Regions from separate parts of the Homo sapiens genome. Here regions 1, 3 and 4 are each linked to region 2. The links come from fine-mapping of genetic effects on plasma protein levels. A gene starts in region 2. Each other region holds a variant in brackets. All regions are shown on one strand. Distances are between the middles of the regions. Region 1 overlaps PON3 (paraoxonase 3). Region 2 holds the start of PON3 (paraoxonase 3). Region 3 has its middle 8.1 kb from the start of PON1. Region 4 holds the start of PON1 (paraoxonase 1).

What was found. PIP is the chance, under the fine-mapping model, that this variant and not a neighbour inherited with it causes the effect. The UK Biobank Pharma Proteomics Project read protein levels with antibody pairs (Olink). The fine-mapping took linkage between variants from a reference panel, not from the people measured, so its PIPs are less certain.
Region 1: its variant is fine-mapped to the plasma level of the PON3 protein (UK Biobank, PIP above 0.99). The variant lies in the coding sequence of PON3. If it changes the protein, the assay may bind it differently, which can mimic a change of level.
Region 3: its variant is fine-mapped to the plasma level of the PON3 protein (UK Biobank, PIP above 0.99).
Region 4: its variant is fine-mapped to the plasma level of the PON3 protein (UK Biobank, PIP above 0.99).

What each region holds. Positions count from the first base shown.
Region 1 is chr7:95,357,654-95,363,000 of GRCh38, forward strand. It overlaps PON3 (paraoxonase 3), which reads right to left. Exons shown (of 9, transcript NM_000940.3): 7 at 5,107-5,188; 8 at 4,709-4,837; 9 at 2,219-2,478. The coding sequence ends at 2,320. Among named protein-coding and RNA genes, the nearest start is that of PON1, 36 kb to the left of the region's middle. The variant C/T (reference allele first, on the strand shown) is at 2,414.
Region 2 is chr7:95,393,119-95,398,465 of GRCh38, forward strand. It overlaps PON3 (paraoxonase 3), which reads right to left and starts at 3,257. Exons shown (of 9, transcript NM_000940.3): 1 at 3,159-3,257; 2 at 1,526-1,596. The coding sequence starts at 3,232. It overlaps LOC107986822 (a long non-coding RNA gene), which reads left to right and starts at 3,354. Exons shown (of 2, transcript XR_007060439.1): 1 at 3,354-3,910.
Region 3 is chr7:95,329,969-95,335,315 of GRCh38, forward strand. No RefSeq gene overlaps it. Among named protein-coding and RNA genes, the nearest start is that of PON1, 8.1 kb to the left of the region's middle. The variant TAACA/T (reference allele first, on the strand shown) is at 2,560.
Region 4 is chr7:95,322,807-95,328,153 of GRCh38, forward strand. PON1 (paraoxonase 1) reads right to left here and starts at 1,726. Exons shown (of 9, transcript NM_000446.7): 1 at 1,596-1,726. The coding sequence starts at 1,669. RefSeq lists a silencer at 1,670-1,849. The variant C/G (reference allele first, on the strand shown) is at 2,578.

The DNA.
Region 1 (5,347 bases), 35 kb before region 2:
TGTTCCAATTCTGAAAAAGCTAAAACCATGAAGTGTAACAGAACTTATTTTTTCCACAGCCTCATGTAATTTTGTTTTTGACTCCCCACACATTGTTTGGAAGCACAAATCAATATATAAGGCAATTCCAAAGCCCCCTCCCAATCCTGGGAGTTTTCTCTAAAATCCAGCAGGGAGAGCTAAAGCATCATGGGAGACAGCTGGTCTTTGATGTCACCGTCTAAACTTCGGTCTTCATTTGAATCAGATGACTACTTATTTTCTTTTTCCTGACAGCAAGACCTTTTTAAGTCTATCAGTTCTTTCTCTGCTAACCCCCATACCCCTCTGGGCACGTGGGAATTTGCTTCTGTGCCAAGTTCAAGTGTAGGTGTGATGCCATCCCCAGTAAATCACACTAGCATTTCTTCTCTGTTTTTTCATCAGGCTGAGCACAGAGAATCCCTAAGGCTTTGTGACTTTCCCAGGCCCTCCCAGGGAAAGGACACATTAGTCCCTCAGCAATCAGATCACCCAAATTTCCTGAGGAAAGTTTTATCCCCCAGCCTTTCTAACTTGGCCTGAGGAGAAGGCAGAGCAGGATCAATTCTCAGGAACTTACCAGCATCTAAATTATCTTTGTCTTTTCCTATCTCTCTTTATTCTCCCCTAGTCTGGTAAACATTATAATATAGTAAGTATGAGGGCTAGGGACTAAAACAAAGACTATTATATTCTTCAAAACTGACTCTACTTATTTTCTTAAATTATGTCTTTAATGTCTTTTTTATTCTGTGTTCTCTTGATAGCTAGGCTTTTGAAATTTAAAATCTAATAACTGACTATAGCATTCTGCTGAATGTTTATTCCTCTTTGAAGCAATGAAAACTACAAAGTCTTATAGTCAAAATCACAATGGGTTACACTGGAAAAAAGGAGAATTTTACCCTGCAAAACTTTTCAGCAAACCTACATAAAACTGAGCAATGTTCTTTTGCATATAAAATGGTCTCCCCAAAAGAGAAAAAGCATCAACCAACCACTCCCGAATAAAAGTCACAAAAAGGGAAGGGAGGTGCTTGGGTGCTCTGACTTTAATTAATGGTTTGTTTGCTAAAGGTTGTACTGGTTTGGGACCAAAAAAGGACACTTCTATTCATTCTCATCAAATTAAGTTTAAGGTTGGTCTTCAAGATAGGACATTAGGCCAGAACCATTCTACTCATTTCAGATTCCTTAGGGCCAAATTTACTGGAGGTTGCTTAATAACTGTTTATTGAATAAACCAGAAGGGTAAGATAAAGGCAGTCAAAGATAACTGCCTTAAGGCTTCATCTAAGATTCAGAGCCCAGTAGGTTAGCAAAACAGTTGTCCCTCAATAACCATGGAGGATTGATTCCTGGACTCTGATGGATACCAACATCCACGGATGCTCAAGTCCCTGATATAAAATGGCATAGTATTTGCATATAACCTATGTTCATTCCCCTATGTAGGTACTCTCTAGATCACTTATAATACCTAATATCATCTAAATATTATGTAAATATGTGTTATACTGTGTTGTTTAGGGATTAATGACCAAAAAAAGTCTGTACATGTTCAGTACGGATGCAACCATCCATTTTTTTCCAAATATTTTCAATCTCTGGTTGGTTGAATCCATAGATGTAGAACTCACAGTTACAGAGGGCCAACTGTATTTCAGATACAAGCATCAATACAAATAAGGGCCTATTAGAGATAAGCACTCCCTGCCCTAAGGTAGCCTCTGAGGCCCAACTGTCAGATTTCTCAGAACCCAATTTCCTATGTGTCGGTACCCTGGGAGAATGCAAGTTCTAAGGGCTTTGGGCAATCACATGATGCTAATTCTTTATCTGCAGACTGGTACACTTAATTAACTGTCTGTGCCCAGCACAACTGCGGGGAGAGAACAGGGGTTGTAAATACTTGAACATTAGCTTTTCTCTTGGTCTGGACTGTAGGAGACCCAGAACGTCAAAACTGTAGGAGGAAACTTGGACCCAGTTACCAAGGACCTCTAGGTGAGTCGGAGACCTCACTGGACATAGTCCACATGTTTTATTGTAGAAAGAACATTGGGGCTGCTAACAAAGATCCGTAAAGTTTGGCTTCTTGTTGGACTGTCATTAACCTGACTTGCAATTTGATGGCTATCAAGGAATCTCTGTCTGCTCCTTTACTTCTATCCATAAGAAAAGCCACACTCACTGGTTGGTGTTTGCTATTTACTTACAGTGCCACTTATCATACAATTATCAGTTTACTTTTACAAAATATGTAGACTTTTTTTTTTTTTTTTTACTATCTAGAGTCTAGAGCTCACAGTACAGAGTTTTGTGAAATACGGTGCCTATGAGAATTTTCCCATGGTACACAGAAGCCACAGAGGTGCCCTGAAGCACAGAG[C/T]CATTGTTGGCATACACGGTGCTCACCCTGGGCTTCTCAGACAAAACATTCTGGATGCGAAGTACCTGTCGAGAAAAGATCGTTTATTAGTATATTATGTGAGTAAACACCTGTTTCATGATGTCCTTCCCAAACATTCTAGGATAAATCTATTTTTCAGAAATCAGAAGCTAAAATCTGTATATCTTCAATAAATTGTTCTTCTTCTGATGAAAGTACTAATGTCATAGATATCTATGCACCAAAGTGAACTGGCTTTCTGACATTAGCCAAATTCCTCAGGGATGACTTACACAATTTTTTTAGTGCAGGCATCCCTTACAGAAGGAGTTAAGATGCTCTTATTTAGTTCTCAAGTGGATGGTGGTCCTCCCTCTGTGGGAAGAATCTTGCCTTTGAGATTACAGTATGGGGAGAGAAACAAGACAAAATAATGAAGAAACACCCAGTTATCCAGCCAACCCAACATGGTAACTGATGGGATGGCAGTCATCACAGCTGGAGCCCCTTCACATCTGCAAAGTTGCTAGAAAGCATAAATAATGGATACTACTTTGGAATTTCATTTGACACATCACTGCCTAGTACTGTTATTGATCCCAGGATTAATACACTTAACTTTGCTAATCAGTGTATATTTAAGCACTCAGGCTTCCAAATAGGCTGGATGAAGTTCACTCAAACAAAATAAAATAAAATTTTTATTTTGGAATTAAAGGAAAACAATTAGAAATTTATGAGTTACGAGTCTATATTGATATCTCTTATTAGAACAGAGTTTGTTCTTTTTTTTATCTTAAGGGAGATCCTTCATCTCAGGTTTGTTAGACAAAAATACTTAAGCTTTGATTTCATGTACAAAACATGAGATTCAACCAAAATTAAAGGGTGTCAGTAATTGTGACAAAAAGTCTTATCTAAAATTTTAAAAATAATTCAACTTGAAAATAGAGATACGAAAAAGATCCTAAACAATTCTCCAATAATCCTATGTATCATATTTCATTTCCTTAAGACAGACATTGTGGTTGGGCTTTTAAAGGAAAGTTTTGTCTATCACTCTTAGGGGTACATATCTGAGGCAAGGATTGCTTCCTAGTTTAGGGTAACAATTCTGGTTCTAGGCTTAGGTTGGACTTTTGTTTCTTTTTACATTTCTTGTGTTCTTTTTAAGAAGCTGTGACTAATACATTAATAAAAAAAGAAATAATCATATTTTTAACTGAAAGACAGCAATACTGGAAGTAGAAATAACTGTATGTCCTAATTTACCCACTAGGCCAATTACTGGGTTTGAATTTGAATTTCAGTTTCTCAAATCACCAAATGTGGATTCACACATTTTAATTTTTTTCAAATTGTACTTTCTCAATGAGGCCTACTCTGATCTCTGACTTTAGTAGTAGGACCTGCTCATCCTGCTGCATATAGTAATCCTGATCCCCTTTACTCTGCTGAGCCTTTTTTCCCATAAAATTTGCCATCTTCAAAGTTACTATGTAATTTACTTATTTCTTATGCTTATTGTTCATTGTTTGTCCCCCTTTCTTAAGATCAGGGATCTCTGTATATTTTTTCTGATATATCCTAAACATAAGTACAATGTCTGACACATTACAGGTACTCAATAAATTTTTGTGAATAAATCTCTGAGTATGTGTGCCTAGAATTTATAGCTATATATAAATTCACTAAAGATTTTTAAATTGTTAACCTTAATGCCATAGAAAATGCAGTTGTCTTATAATGTTGTTTTTAATGTAGAAAATTCAATGGATTATGCTATTGTTTTAGAAGAGATATTTTAAAATAACACAAATGATATCTTGAAAATAAGACAATTTTCAACACCATCGTATATGTTAGAACTTACAGGCAAAAACTCATTTTATTTTGAGGCGACAGTTATTTAAATCCTTTAATCTTAGCTTCATGTTGGACAGTGTGAAAGAAGATGGTACCATATACAACTCTCTCTTTGTCTAACTGCAAGACCTACCTGCTCAGAGACTATCTCCTGATTGGAAATACGATATGGCAATCTGGGTCAATATGAATAATCGAGCTTATGTTTTTCCATTATTCCCAACAGCAAGAGTTATTGAAAAGTTAATGGTGGCCTAAAAGAGTTAACGAACCTTATCTCCCTACCTGTCAAAAACTTTACTTTTCTCATACGTAAAATTTCTTTAGTTCTATAACACCAAATGTGACTGGCTTAAATTCTTCCAAGTCACCCCAACAAATTTGTTCTTGCAGCTTTGCCTGTGAGCTCAGAGAGGTATAGGAACTTACTTCTGATCCTGGAGGGTCCTCAGGGTTATAGTTCAGTAGCTTCATAGGATTAGGATGGCATCCTGCCAAAATGTCTCCTGTGGCAGGATCGACAGTCAGGTTATCCACTAAGGTGCCCAACTGTATCACCTTACAACAAAGAGGGAGTAGTGAAGACATTGTCTCAATGATTCCTCGCTTTCTTCCCTATTCATCCCCACAACCCCTACAGCTTCTTCTGGCACCTAAAGTTGGTGTTTTTAGGGGGCTTTGCTTCTGTATTTTAGAAACGCATGCATAATCTCACTGGCATTGCTCTCAAATAGCCATGTTTTCCTCATTCAAGGGGCACATTCCTGGGTCAAGTATGGGACTAAGGTAAGAAGTCAGATTGTGTGGGCCAGACAGGGTACTCTTACCTTCAGTTGAGTTAAATCCCAGTTATCATGTTTTTCCATTATGTGAATGTTCTTAGCTGCTACATCAGCTACATAGACATACCTTTGAAGTAAATGACATTTACACTTAAGCAAGTGGTAATGAGAGACAACACTCACTTTTATTTTGGAGAAGAGGTATAAAAATGCACACTCCTTGAAAGTACCACTGCAATCCTTTTCTAAACCACAGTAAAAGAAGATAATGGGGTAGTATTTTTAA
Region 2 (5,347 bases):
GCAAGAAAAGGCAGAAAACTCAAATCAAAAGGGTACTTTTTCTGTATTTTTAAATATAGCAATAAAATAGAAAATCATATCCCAAAATAAGCTATCTCATCACATTCTAATAAATAAGTCACAGTTCTTGGCCCTAGGGAGTTTACAATCTGATAGTGAAAGAGAGAACACTGCTAGCTATAATACAAGGCATGTGGCAGGTGTCATAAGTGAATCGGAGCTTCAGAGTGCTGTGAGAGTTCAGAGGAAGGAGATGAATTTTGCAGCTGATTTTAGTAAGCAGAGACAGAGGAATCAGTAAGTTTGGAGGGAATTTCATAAGCAAAGGTGAGAAGGTGAAAGAACATATTCCCAGAACAGGGAACACAATCTAGCCTGATTTTATTTTATTTTTCTGTTAGCAATGTCAGGAAGAATTGGAGCTGTGGAGCCCAAATAAGCAGGTGTGGCATTAACTAGTAGGTGAGATTAGCCCATGTCTCACGTAGAAGCATGAGGGACAAGCGGGGAACAATGGTTCCTGGATTTTGAACTGAATCTTTTGAGAATGGGGGTACCATACATAGGAAAAGTCTAGAAGCAGAGCTGGTTGTGGGTGGGAGGATGAGGGAGAAAACGACAGAAATGTAAAATAGATTTCAGCTTAGGGAGAGTTTGAGCTGGAGCTGCCCTTTAACTGACTAAAAAAGAAGGGCTGCAGTTTGAAAGGTTAGGGACTGGGCCATGGATTTTTTATGAATTTTTTTAAAAGAAGGTAGGTAGGCTGTGAGGTTCCTTCGTTTATTATTTTTTTTAAGACAAAGTCTCGCTCTGTCGCCAGGCTGGAGTACAGTGGCGCGATCTCAGCTCACTGCAACCTCCGATGACTCCCTGGTTCAAGTGATTCTCCTGCCTCAGCCTTCCGAGTAGCTGGGATTACAGGCACACGCCGCCAACATGCCCGGCTAATTGTTATATTTTTAGTAGAGATGGGGTTTCACCATGTTGGCCAGGATGGTCTCGATCTCCTGACCTCATGATCCGCCCCCCTCGGCCTCCCAAGTGCTGGGATTACAGGTGTGAGCCACTGCGCCCAGCCTGCTGTGAGGTTCTTGAGGGGAGGGGCTGAGTCATATTATTTGAAAAAAAATAACACTTGAAGCCAGGAATGACAATAAGGAAAGGGAGGGAGGAAGGAAAGAAGAAAGAAGCAAAAAAAGGAAAGGTAACAGAGGACAAGGAGGAGAGTGAAATACCACAGATGGGAAAGGAGAAGCATTCAGTGAGGGGAAAACCAGGGAGTGGTCAATGACATTCTTTAGGTAATGTGGAGAGATGTCAGTAAGGAAATGTGCTGAGAAAAACCCACAAAGAATGTCATTTAGTACACCCCTGAAGACCTTGCATGGGGCAGAGTGGACGGGGCAGATGTCCCACTGGGAGGGCTTAAGTAGTGACAGGTAATTAAATGAGCTGGTAGGGCTCAGTCAGGTGGATGACGACCAAGAAGCTGTGCTGGCTCCTCTTGGTACTGTCACATACATACCAAGTTCCTCAATAAGGTGGCAGTTTTCAGGTTCTACTGGCTCCACTTCTCGAGAGGCATTCACCCTTTCTCTGTAGAAGATAAAACCCAACCCTGGAAGTCAAGGCACAGCATTCAAAATGTATGTTTAAATGTGGACTTCAATCATCTTCGTGTTGGTTAACTATCTTTATCATAATTTATGAATGACATAACAAGTAAGTAGGTACTTCCTTTCATGTTTATTTACATAATGTAGACATTATGTGGGTATTTTACCTATATCAGCTAACCTTACCCAGTTATTGCTGAAAAACTGTATAATATGATTCAACATGGAAAATTCTGCTGCCCAAATAAAAGACACTATTTAATAGTATGAGTAATTGAACAATATTATTAATTTAAATGCACGAAATAGCCCTAATTTTCTAAAGTATCGTCTGTTATAAATCTGCACTTAATCCCCTACAGTCTTGCCCTTTGAACTTTTCCTTCCAAACTGCTTTCCCAAAATTCAACAGGGTCTCCTAATAGTCAAACTCTATCACTTTTGCTTTAATTTTTAAATTTTATGCTGACTTACTCCGCAAGTATGTAAATTCATTAAACCAACCACAATTTAAACAATTGGCCGATTTATTTTTCAACACAATTTTCTTGTTTCCAGAGTGAAAAGGAATGTTTCCACATTCTTCTAATATCAGGGATAATTTAAAATTTTTATTAAAGTATATTCAGAAAGACTCAATACTTATCTTACAGTCATTTATTTAAAAAAATACCCTTAGATCTACTTTATTATTATTACTATTATTTTATGATTCTCCATGTGGTTGCACTGGGAGCAAATGTAACAATAAAACTCTCAAACTGGAAGTATTACTAATAGGCACCAGGCACCTCAACAGATTCTAGACGTGATCCTCTAAGAAGACCAGCTTCAACTAAGAGAAATACATAAACACTCAAAGACAACTGAAAGCAAGCAGAGGCTTTCGATCCACTCATGAATGTGTATTATCACTTAAAGGTTCTTCTTTCTAGCCCAGTATTGACTTTTCCTGAGACATTTCTAGGCTGGCTATCACCATTGTATCTTCCACTTCAAAAGGTCAAATGCCTACAAAATGCCAGTTACCGCCTGCAGGTTTCAGCTGGTTTGCCCTGCTGTCTGGCCAGCTCTTTAAATCTAGGATAGGTTCCATAACCCAGTACTTCTGCATGGTTAGCCAGACCTGGGCAATGTCTCAGTCAGCCGTAAACATCCAACTGGTAGCCTGATCCTCTCTCCCAAGTCCGGCGTTTCCAATGGACGTCCTTTTTTCCCAAGCAGAATGTTGAGGGCGAGCTGGGAAAGGGGTCATCACGTTCAGAAAGTAAAAGGGGGTCATGACCTTCAGAAAGCAAAGTGGGGGATCATAACCTTCAAAAAATAAATGGGACTAATTCGGCTCGGCAGTCTTTGGAAACGCAAGTAGCTCACTTTCCCCATAAGCGAGTCTCAAGGGGCGGTTTGCTGGGTGAGATGGAGGAGTGAGGTTCCAAAGCTGCTCTTTCCTACCCGCTAGGAAGGGGGCGCCAGGCAGCCCCTGACCTCACTTGGAAGAGGAGAGAAAGAGAGTCGAAGACGCCCTGTCAAGATGCCACTCACCTAAACGCCAGGAACATCTCCCCGACTAAGGACAGGCCGACCCCCAGCAGGACCAGCGCCACGAGCTTCCCCATGGTCTCGGGGTGCCCAGCGGCGACTGCGCGGCGCCGAGAGCTCTCGGGGGCGCGGCGGGCGGTTCCTGCCTCGCGTACGGATTGGGGCCCGCTCGGCCCCGCCCGCACACGCCTCCTACTTACCTGAGCGGCCCGGGTGCCGCAGCAGGGCGCTGACGAGTCCCGCCGAGCCCCGCCGCCCGGGTTCAAGGCCGCCTTCACGCCCACGATTCCTTGTTTTTTGGGCAGAGGTCAAGGCTCAACGGAGAGGGAGCCCGGGACCGAGTTGTGGTGGGAGTTTGCTCCTAACACCCGCGAAATCCTACCTCAATTCCTCAGATGGCCTGAGGGAGAAACCGGAGGGCCCGGGAATGGCGGGGAGCTCCAGTTCAGAGCCGGAACTCCGGACTTCTGCAAGGCCAGACGTGAGGCGACACTGAATTGCTCCCGAGACGCGGGAAGGGCGAAGGCAATCGAAGCGAAGAGCTTTAACTCATCTTCTCCAGGATTTGGGGCACGGGAACCTGTCTCCTGACCTTCGTGCCTTACCTCGGAGTGTGCTGCCCAGACGGACTTGTGAATAGCTGCGTCTGTCCCCATAGTTAACGGGAGAAGGAAACACCAGGAGAAAAGAAGGAAAAGACAGGAAACGGGAAGAGGAGCAGAGGCGAGGAAGGGGAAGGTCATTTCCTTGGCAGGGTAGGCCCTCTTTCTTCTAGGTCTTGAGTTCCTGCCAGGCAAGAAATGCTCTTTCCCCTCTCCTGATGAACACCAGGTTGGAGGGGGAGGAACTGAAGATGCGGGAAGACTTGGGGAGTTCGGGCAAAGTAGCACATTCAAGCATGATCTATTTTTATTTACGGACAGAAAGAAATATTAGTTCTGTTAGGTTCCACCGAGTAAACTATTTGTTGAGAGAGCAAGATTTGCCAATCCTGGGGGTATTAAGGAAAGAAAAGGTGGTCCCTGACCTATGGGATACATGATTCTAGTATGAATACGTAATTACAGGATGAATAATGAAGCCCACCGCTTATGCAGTACTGACTGTGTGCTTTGCCTGTGCTGACACCTATGTTAACGCATTTAATTATCAACACAATCTCTGGAGTGTGGGTAGCCTTACCCCAATTTTACAGGTGAGACCTGCAGCACAGATTGCTTATGTGGCTTGCTGTAGGTCAGGCAGCTGTCAAGCAGCAGACTCCAAAATCTGGGCCCTTAACTGAGCTGCCTCTACCATGCTGCCTCTAGAAAATCTATGGAAGAAGGGTTGTATTAAAAGGACAGTGTAACGTCTTGAATTGTATAGATTAGAGTTCTTGTTAAGATGACTAATGTTAAAAGAGTGCAAGCAGAGGAGGAATCGAAGTCAGGAGGGCTCACAGAGCTGAGGGGCCTGGGGTGTGATGTAGACATGCATGCAGGGTTTGGGAGTCAGGCTGCCTGGGTTTGGATCCAGCCTAGATAAAGTACTCAGCTTTATTGAGCTACAGATTCCTCTTCTGTAAAAGAACGTCCACCTCATAGGTAGCTTAAAATTAAATGTGATAATGAGTGTCAAGTGCTCTGCACTGTGCTTGATACGTTTTATGAAGTCAGTAAAGATTAACCACTAATTAATTCTGAACTTTGCTTGAGATTGTAGGCTCCTGTGGGAAGGACTCCATCGCATTGATCACTGGGTTTTCCCGTGCCATCCATAGAACTTTGTGCTTAATAATGACTCAATAAATATGATTAGATGGATGGATGTAAAATATGGACTTGGGAGAAAGAAAAATTAGAAGAATAAAAAATAAATGGAATGAATAATGAAATAATAATAGTCATATTATTATTTCACTCAGCGTTTGCATGCCTTGTCACATTACTTCTTATTAACCTTACCTACAAAGAAGTAAAGTGAATTGCTTGCTGCAAGTTTGATGGGACTAAAAAGAAGGAAAGTGAGGCTTTGAGGCTTAGAGAGGTAAAGTAATAATTCACTTAAGGTTACATAACTAAGTGTCAGTGCCTCCATCTGGACTCAGATCAGGTGACTCTAGAGCTCATGTTCCTTATCACTGTGTTTGCAGCATAGCATGAAGAAGGGGGTAAAGAAAGAAGCGTATTCTTGGGCAATTGATTGAAGTT
Region 3 (5,347 bases), 63 kb before region 2:
CATGCTATGTGAAGATTTTAAATGTTATGAGAAGTTATGAAGGTGTTTTAAACTTAGAATTTTTTTATCACCAGAAATGTATAACCAAACATTTAAAAAGCAAACTTCTTTAAAAACTCAGATCTCACCTTGACTATTAGAATCCCTTTCCTTTCCTCCCTTGATCCTCATGTGCTAAGTATTTATTTGCACATGTTCAAATACTTCTTCCTAAATATATTTGGTAACAATCACATCAACCCATTCTTTTATTTTCCCACAAAAAGCCTAATTCACGGAGTAGTCAGTAAAAACTGTCAATGAATTGGTAGAAAGCCAGAGCCAAGTTTGCCAAGCTTAATTTTGTAGAAGTGCAAAAGGATTGATTGGGTAACTATACCACTTGGTGTTGTTCATCTGCAGAGGATGCTGAGCCCTGTTGGCAGTTGTTGCAATGTTCTCAAGTTTCTGAAAGTGTGAAATTCCAATGTTCTAAGAATGCCAATAATACCATTCTGCATGAGGCAGCTATAGTAAAGCTGGAAGAAAAAAAAACCCAAAAACCCTGGGCTTTAAATACTAAATTCATGGTCACTTCCTGAAAATTCTATAGTAGCAGAAATAACATCTGTAAAATGGAGATAATTCCTGTGGGTTTGCTGTATTAAATTTTTAAAAACCTGTGAAAGCACTATGCAGATATAAAGCAATGGCAGTGCAAAGTACAAGGTACTATCCAAGTCTGGAAGTTAGTTTACAAAATGCTTTTACCTTACATTCTCTCACAAGACCCTGGACAAGGAGATAGGATCAATACGATTATCCCCATTCATACAAAGTCATCCAATTAGGAAGTGTAGGAGCCCTAAGTTTGTATGTCTAGATATGGGCAAACCAAAACTGACGTGCACCTAAAAACAGAAACTGAAAGTACGAAAAGGGAAAGCTAACAGAACTATGTCACTTCACTTCAATTGTCTAAGCACACATCTCAAAAAGCTTAAAAATCCAAAGAAAGGAGAAGGATGGAAATGAAGATAAAATCAGCAATCAATGAAATAAAAAACAAACTTGAAGAGAGACTATCCATTGTATGAAGTGTCATTCAGTTATAAAAAAAGAATAAAGTCCTAATACATGCCACAACATAGATGCACCTTGAAATCATTATGCTAAGTGAAAGAAGCCAAACACAAAAGGCAGCATATTATAGGATTCCATTTACATGAAATAGCCAGAAAAGGCAAATCCATAAAGACAGAAAGCAGATTAGTAGTTGTCAGGAACTGCAGGGGAGAGGAGGATGGGGAATAACTACTTAATGCACATAGGTTTCCTTCTGAGATGGTGAAAAATATTCTGGCGCAAGATCATGGTGATGGTTGAACAATATTGTGAACATACTTAATGCCATTGAATTGTATGTCATTGAATGGTTAAATGATGAATTTTATACTATGTGAAATTTACTACAATAAAAACTTAGGACAAAACATTCAAAAGTTGATTATTGAAAAGACTAATGAAAGATATAAAACTGTGGTAAGACTGACAGAAAGAAAATGAGAAAGAAAACAAATTCTAAATGTGAGAAATAAAGAGGATATTACCGCAGATCCTAAATATGTAACAAAAGGATATTATGAACTACTTTATTCCACTAAATCTGCAAATTTAAATGAAAAGAATGAATTGCTAAATTTATCAAAGCATACACAAGCAGAAACATTTAATTGTAATATTTCTATATTCTTTAAATAAATGTAATCTATACTTTAAAATCCCCCTTAAAGAAATCTTTAGTCCCAGGTAGCTTCATAAGTGAATTATTCCAAACACTTAAGGAAGAAAAAATGCTAAATTTTACACTAACTTTTGGAGAATAAAAAAAGAAGAAATAACTCTCAAGTCTTTCACCAGGTGAATATAACCTTGATACTAAAACCTGACAATTAATTACAAAAAAGGGAAATTAAAATTACAGGCCAATCTTTATTATGAACATGGACATTAATATCTTAAAATATTAGTCAAGTAAGTCCACAATTATAAAAACATAATAATATCATAATCAAGTAAGGTTTATACACCATATGGGAGTTTGGCTTGAAGTTTTAAATCAACATATAATTAACAGAATAAAGGGGAAAAATGATGATCTCAATAGATGCAGAAAAAGTATTTTAAAAATCCAACACTCATTTACAATTAAAAACATTTTTAGTAAACTAGAAAGAGAATGCAAATTTCTTAATCAGGTGAAGAATATTTTGCCAAAGAGAAAAAGTTACAGCAATTTTCACACTCGATGAGAATTTGAAAGCTTTCCCTGGTGATTGAGAAAGGAACAAAGACATTTGTGATTATCCCTTATGCCCAATATTAAACTAAAGGTAAGAAAAAGAAAGAGGAGATGTCAAGGCTGGAAAAGAAGATCTAGAACACTCATTATTTACAGACAATGTGCTTGGTATGTAGATGATACGAAAGACTCTACAGATAAACTTTAAAATAAAAACATAAATTTACTAAGGTAGCTAGCTATAGAGTCAGTATACAGAATCATTTGTTCTTGTGTAG[TAACA/T]AACAATTAGAAAATGAAATTTTAAGAAGATACTATCTACAAGAGCATCAGAACTGCTAAACTCTTAGGATGTAACAGAAGATGTTCAAAATCTCTACACGAAAATCTACAACTTCACTAACAGAAACTAAACATTTAAAGAGACACATATACCAACTTCAGATCTTGGAAAGGTGGCAATTTAATGATGTACATTCTCCCCGCATTGATCTATAAGGAGCTCAATAAAATTCCAACACAAATCCTAGAAAGGTTTTGTACAAATTGGCAATCTGACTCTAAATTTAAGTGAAAATACGAAGAGTTAAGAATATCCATAAAAAATTTTGAGGAAGAACAAATTTGGGGGATTTTAATACCAAAAATCAAGGTTTATTATAAATCTATTATAATTAAAACGCTGTGATTTTGTTGAATGACTGACAAATAATCCAACGGAACAGAACAAAAAGTCCAGATATAGGCCAGGCGCGGTGGCTTACGCCTGTAATCCCAGCACTTTGGGAAGCTAAGGCGGGTGGATCACGAGGTCAGGAGTTAGAGACCAGCCTGGCCAACATGGTGAAACCCCATCTCTACTAAAAATACAAAAATTAGCTGGGCGTGGTGGTGGGCGCCTGTAATCTCAGCTACTCAGGAGGCTGAGGCCAGAGAATCGCCTGAAACCAGAAGGCAGAGGTTGCACTGAGCCGAGATCGTGCCACTGCACTCCAGCCTGTGCAACAAGAGTGAAACTCCATCTCAAAAAAAAAAAAAAAAAGGTCCAGATGTAGACCAACACATAAATGGTTACCTTATTTATGATAAAGTGCCACTGCAATGAGTGGGGAAAAGATTTTCTTTTCAATAAAATGATGCTGTATATATTGGATATACATATGGCCAAAATGAATCTTGATTCCTACTCACAGGACAACCAAAAGTATATTCTGGGTGGATGAAAAATCTAAATGTGAAAAATAACTATAAATATTTTATAAGATCACAAGGAAGCATATTTCATAATTTTGGGGTACATAAAGATTTTTAAAAGAGGATATTCAAAGCAACATTCATAAACAAAAATATTGATGTTAGATTTCATTAAAATTGCAGACTTTCTGTTCATCAACAGAAGTGATTAAGAAAAAGACTCTAAAAAATAGAATATATTTTCAATACATGTATGCACAAAGGATTCATACCTACAAATCAATAAGAAAAATAATGTCAACCTAATTTCTTAAATGAACAAAATGTTAAATATTCACTGCACAAACAAGGATTCCAACTGGCCAACAACCATAAGACAAAGTGTTCAACTCCATTAGTTATCTAAGAAATGCAAATAAAACCACAATGAGATATTCTTACATAACAATCCAAATAGTTAAAAGTTAAAGAAGGAAAACTAATATTATTAAGTGCTGGCAAAGAAATGAAGCAACTAGAACTCTCCAACATTATTCGTGAAGGAGTATGCTGCTACAACCACTTTGGAAAACTGCTTGACAGTACTTGCAAAAGCTGCACATATATGTGATTTATTAATCAGTAATTCCAATTCTATATAGTCAAAAGAAATGTTTACATACATGCATTAAAATACATTTTACAAGAAAATTCATTGCAGTTTATTCATAATGTACAAAAACTTGGATAAATATAAGTGTCTATCAATAGTGGAATGGATAAATTGTGAAATATTCATACAATGAAATACCACACACAGCAAATGAAAAAGAATGAACTACTGCAGCATGCTGCAACAGAGGCTGGTAACAGCAATGGTTTACTGTTTATGTTTAACATTTATTGCTCATGCTACTTGTCCATTGCAAGTTAGCTCTGGCTCTGCTTCTGATTATCACTAATCCAGGGTCCAGTCTGGCAGAGCAAGCTATATCTACAACATTACCAGTCTGGGGGCAAAGAGAAAAGAGACACAGTGAACTACAGTGGCTCTTAAAATTTCTATCTGAAAGTGATCTGTGTTACTTCTACCAGTATTTCATTGGCCAAACTAAGTCACATGGCCATTCCTGAGTTTAATAACACAGAGATGTATACTCAGCCCACTAAGAGTGGCACAGCAAGAAGAGAAATGGAATATATGGAAAACAGTTGTCCAGTGTACCACAAAGGCTGATAAAGTGAGTATCTGGCTCCTGTCTTGGGCAACTTAGATACATATTTGATGTCTGTCTGGTTCCCTAGAATGGGAGACAGAGGAATTCAGAAGCACATGATTTATTGACAGTGCCTGGTAGGAAAAGTCCTGGAAAGTAGTGAGTAAAGCAAGATAAAGATAGGGAAATGATCAAAATGTTTAAACCTATTAATAGTAGGGCACATCTGACTTTATTATTCCCAAAATTTCTATATAGATATTTACTTTCTCTCTCTATGAATACCAGTGGGCTTTTCTAGAATTCATTCATGAACAATTTACTTTCCATTTGCATTTTACCCACAGACAATCTTCAGATTCATGGCAGAAGCCAATTCTTTTTTTCTTTAGAGAAAATTGATAGCAGTCCACAGAATGCTCCATCTATACTTCATTTGATTTTACTTCTTGATAGAATCAATTACATTCTATGGTTTATGTGATTCACCAGTTAGCTGTCAGAAACCACAGAACTCCTCTGGTATGCAAAGCCTGGAGCTTGATGAACACAAGTATGTGATACCTATTCATTCACCATTTCCCAAAGTCATCCCTAAAGGACTGAGCTTTTTCTGATACATCTGTTAGACAGAATATGAAACTGAATATGTTAAAAATTTTCATTACATTCTCTG
Region 4 (5,347 bases), 70 kb before region 2:
CTCTCTCAGTTCTTTTCTCTGTACTGCTCCCACCTGGGAAACTCAGAAATCTCTTGAGGCATCCCTTGTGTGCTTCCTTAAGTTCCCTCCAGCCCAGGCATATATAGCTTCCTGTGAGCCGCACACACATACACTCCAAGTCTGAAGAAAAAAGGATGCATCTATCCTGGGGATTTGGCTTGCTCCTGATGCAGGCCTCATGATATCATCTCTTGCCTTCTCTCCCTGGGGCAGATTCATGATCTCTAATCCCCCAGGGAGTTTGTTCCATGACGCTGGTTCTGATTCAATAGTGTGGGGTAGGGCTTGAGATTCTGCCTGTACAGGGAGCCCCTAGGTGATGCTCAGGCATCTGGTCCCCAGACCCAGTTGAGTAGCTAGGTTTTAGGGGTTTCCAACAGTGGGTAAAATTTCCCTTCCTTCCTCTGTCTGGGTCACTCCAGGAGGCTCAGCAACCCATCCTTTATCTATATATTTTTATCTATACCTATAATCTCCTTTGGCAGCCACCAGCACTGTGATTAATAAAAACTCACAAACTGTAATTTTTACATGATTTAAAAGCCAAGAATACCAACTGCTTCTTACTTTTTTTCTGCACTCTGTAACTTAAAAAAATTAGAAAAACATCCACAATAAATAGTAAAAACCCATTCTGAATGTAAGCTTCTAATTAGTCCATAAGCTCATATAATTTTTTTATATTTAATTTTTATTAGGTTTTACTTTAAAGTAAATAAGGCATTGTTGACTAAGCCTTAGAGACTAGGATGATCTGTAGACTTTGAACTCCTGTTAAAAGTTATGAAACTTTTGATACATTCTTAAAATATCCCCACCCCCCTTGTATAGCACTTAACCCTTTATTAAATACTTTAAAGGGAAGCAGGGAACTAACATTTATTGAATAGCTACTCTGTCGCAGGCAGTGTGTATTACTATTTCCAGTTTACTGAAGCAGCTAAGGTTAGAGATGTAAAGTGATTTGCCCAAATCGCATACTCATGGGGCAGAGCTAAACCCCAGGACATCAGATGCTGGCTCCAGGGTTCCCTCTTCCCCGCCTGCCCCCACTGAAGCGAACCATCACAGCACACGTTAGCTCCACCTGCTCGGGTCCACACGCAGTTTTGCTGTGGCCCTCAGTAGCCTCAATTTGAGAATCTTCAAGCCTGGAAGGTTTGCCATGGCCAGGCAGTCAAGGCGCAGAAGCGACAGGGGCTCCTTTCTCTAATACACAAAATATCAGGAGAACCCCCAGCCAGGTTAGTTTGTTTCTTTCCAGGTTGAGAAGTGAATCTGTAGCCAGGGCACACAAATCTTCATGAAAAATTAATTCGTGTATGCTGACAACCTGGGCACTCACACCCCTGGCAATTGCCTCCTTATCCCATGTCTCAGGCCATGAGCAAGAGTTTGTTTTCAAGTGACACATGACGGCTGGACAAACATTTATGAAACCCCCGCAGAGTGTGCATCTAGCACCTGCTTGTAAATGTTCTGTTAACAGCCTGGACCCAACTTTCTGGGGGCTCGTGGAGCTGGCAGGGAGTGAGGAGGACGAAGGCTGCAGCCCTCACCACAACCCAACTTACTGGTAAGAAGACTGGTGGTTCCTGAAGAGTGCCAGTCCCATCCCCAAGAGGGTGAGCGCAATCAGCTTCGCCATGGTCGGGGATAGACAAAGGGATCGATGGGCGCAGACACCGACGGGCTAGGAGGCTCTGCCTGCCTGCAGCCGCAGCCCTGCTGGGGCAGCGCCGATTGGCCCGCCCCGCCCCTCCCCGCCGGGTCGGCAGCTAGCTGGGCCGACCAGGTGCACAGAAGGCGTGGCTTGCGGTCAGCCCCCACCGCAGGAGCTCAGCACTTTCAGCCAAAAGTCCCATTTTGCTCCTTCCAACTGTAAAGAGAGAAGACAGAGAATAGGTGCCTAGTCCAGTCGGGGAGGGGAAATCAAACAAGCTGAAGTAAATTGCCATGGGAAAGGACAGTCAAGCTTTGGTGAGCACTCACTTTGTGCCATCCCGGTCCTTGCGTCTCAGAGAGATTCAGTAGCTTGATCATGGTGACAGCCAAAAAGGTGCGGAAGGGAGGGCTGTAGTAGGAACCCCTAAGATCTAACTGTTCTCACCAGGCTACTACTCTGTGTCACCTTCCAACATCTGGATTTCAAGCATTTTTCTCTCAACACCACTCTGACTTTAGAGTTCACTCAAGTACATCCCCCACACAGCTCATTCATTTCCTCATGCAGCTGGCATTTATTGAGTACCTACTATGTGCCAGGCGCTGTTCTAGATGCTACAGAACAGGACAAAACGTCTTCCTCAAGCTTACGTTCATTCCAATGGGGGGAGTCAATTGAGAAATCAGCAAAACATGTCACTGTGGCATATATAATGCTCTAGGTGATGCATGTGTGTGTTATGGATATGCACATATGTTATGGAGAAAACACATAAAGCAAGAAAGGGGATAAGGAATACCCTCTGCTGAAGAATAGCAGTCAGAGAAGTTCTCACTGATAATGGGGCATTTGAGTAAAGACCCAAAGGAGGTGCCTCTGTACAACCATGT[C/G]TCTCTTCTCTGCTGTCTGCTGTTACTGTGAATGATTTGCTCCATGTCTCTTTCCTTCTCAAGGCTTTTGGTCCCAGTTATACCTTCTCTCTTCTGCAATATCTGTCCTTTCATCTCTTGTGGAATATTGCCAGCCAATACCAACATGCTTTACTTATCACCTTTAGCTTTCTGGGGGGAAGCTTCTTTGGCCTCACATTGTAACTACTGCCCTCTCTCTCTGCTCCTTCTGAACACTTGCTCTTAAGCCTTGAGCTACTATGTAAAAAACCTGACCACTCCACTGGAGCATTCACATGAAAGGCCATGAACATATGGAGAGGGAAAGTGGTCAGCTGAAGCCAACCTCTTAACCATCGGCACCAAGGAAGCAGAAATGAATGAAGTGGGCTATTAGACAAGCCCAGCCACCACAGCCTGGCCACCAACTGAATACCACTGGCTAAGCCACCCTGGTTAACACCAGGTGGAGCAGAAGAATCTACCTAAGAAGTAGAACCAATGAATCCAAAAGAGAAGAGTATTCGAAAAGAGGGGGAATGATGATCTGTGTCCAATGTGGCTATGAGTTGAGTATGCTTATGGCAGAGAAGTAACTACTGAATTAGATAACATGGATACAATAGGTGGTTTAATAAGAACAAATTCTACACGAGTCAAAAGAACACAAACCATATTAGAATGGGTTAAGGTGAGAATGGAAGATTGGAGATATTTCACAAGGTTAGCTGCTAAACCAAACAATCATTTTCTTATGCTCATAAACAGTGCATAAGGAATTTGGGCAGGGCCCAGCAGGCTACCTGGTTGACATGCCCACTGGGGTGTTTAACAGTCTTTTCAAAATGTGTCCAAAGGAAAACTCTTAATCCCCCCTGCCCAAACTCACACTTCAATAAATGGCATCACTACCATCCAGTTGCTCAAGTCCAAAATCTACATATCTTCTTTCATCCATCTCTTTTCCTCACACCCTCTTGCACCAAACAGATCAGTCAGTCCTATAGGCTCTATTTTGTATTAGTTATCGTATGCTGCATAACAAATTATACTAAAGTCTCACCATTAAAAACAACAAACATTTATTATCTCATCATTTCTGTGGGTCAGGAATTCAGGCATGGCACAGCTAGATACCTCTGGCTCAAGGTCTCTCATGAGTTAGCAGCTGAGCTGTCAGTGTGAATTGCCATCTTATCTGAAGGCTCAACTGGAGTGGGTGAAGGAGGTGAGATCAGCCTCCAAGATTACTCACACAGCTCTTTAGAGACTTCAGTCCCTTGATACTTCAGTCCCTTGATACGTGGGCCTCTCTACAGAACTACAACAGAACAAGGTAGCTGACTTTCACTAGAATGAGCAATCTGAAAGAGTGAGATAGCATGCCTCCAAAATGGATGCCACAATCTTTTATTAACCTAACTTCTGAAATGACATCCCCTAACTTCTGTCATATTCTGTTTGTTAGATGCAAACTGCTAACTCCAGTTTACATTCAAGGTGAGAAGAATTAAACTTCACCTTTTGAGGCTCCCCTTCATATGCCTTGAGGCATATTGATATGGTTTGGATGTTTGTCCCCTCCAAATCTCATGCTGAAATGTGATCCCCAATGGTGGAGGTGGGACAGGGTAGGAGGTGTTGGGTCATGGTGGCAGATCCCTCTGAATTGTCTTGGTGCCATCCTCATGGTAATGAGTGAGTTCTCTTGCTCTGAGTTCACGTGAGATTTGGTTGTTTAAAAGACTATAGCACCTCCCCCCACCCCCACTCCCTCTCTTGCCATGTGACATGCTAGTGATGCCCATCACCTTCCCCCATGATTTTAAGCTTCCTGAGGTCCTCACCAGAACCTGAGCAGATGTTGACACCATGCTTCCTGTACAGCCTACAGAACCATGAACCAATTAAAACTTTTTTTATATAAATTACCCAGCCTCAGGTGTTTATAGCAGTGCAAAAATGCCTAGCCCACATATCAAAGAATGTATAGATAGCTCTTTGAAACCACTACAACTTTCAAATAATCTTGAATCAACCCAATTTTCCCCATTTCCACTGCCATTACTCTGGTTCAGGCTGCTATCATCTCCAGGCTAGAACAGATTCTCCATTGTTCTCTCCCTAATCACCCTCCCCACAAATCCATTCTTCTTACCAAGGCCCACGTAATCCTTTAAAAATGTAAATCAGATTATATCATTTCCATGCTTAAAATCCTCCCTCTTGTGGCTTCTCATTTTATTTTCTTATTGTGGCCTGAAAGGCCCCACAAGATCTGGGCTGTGCTTATCATCTGACCTAATTTCTTATAATTCACTCAGCATAACGTTGCAGCAACATTAGCTTTTGTACCATTCGGTACACACACCAAGTTTATTGCACTTCACCATCATTGTCTTTGCTATTCTTTGGCTAGAATCCTCTTCCCATCCCCCTGACTTAACTTCCCAACTACCCCTTGCATTTCTCTTTCTCTTCATTCAGGTCATAGCTTAAATGTCACTTCTTCTGAGAGGCCTTTCCCAATATTACCATCTAGAGTAGACTTCCTCCACACCCTCTTCTCCTGAACCCTCTCTCTGCACCAGTTACTAAGACCTCAGTGCTGATATCAAATGGTTAGCACCAGTACAGAATTACTGGTTATTAGAATAATGACATATTTCTACAGTGGTTGTTAAATAACCACTTCCTCAGACCCTCCAAGAGGTCCTCCACAATACTGACCATTCTCTCTTCCCTGGAATCCTCCCTCACTTTACCATGA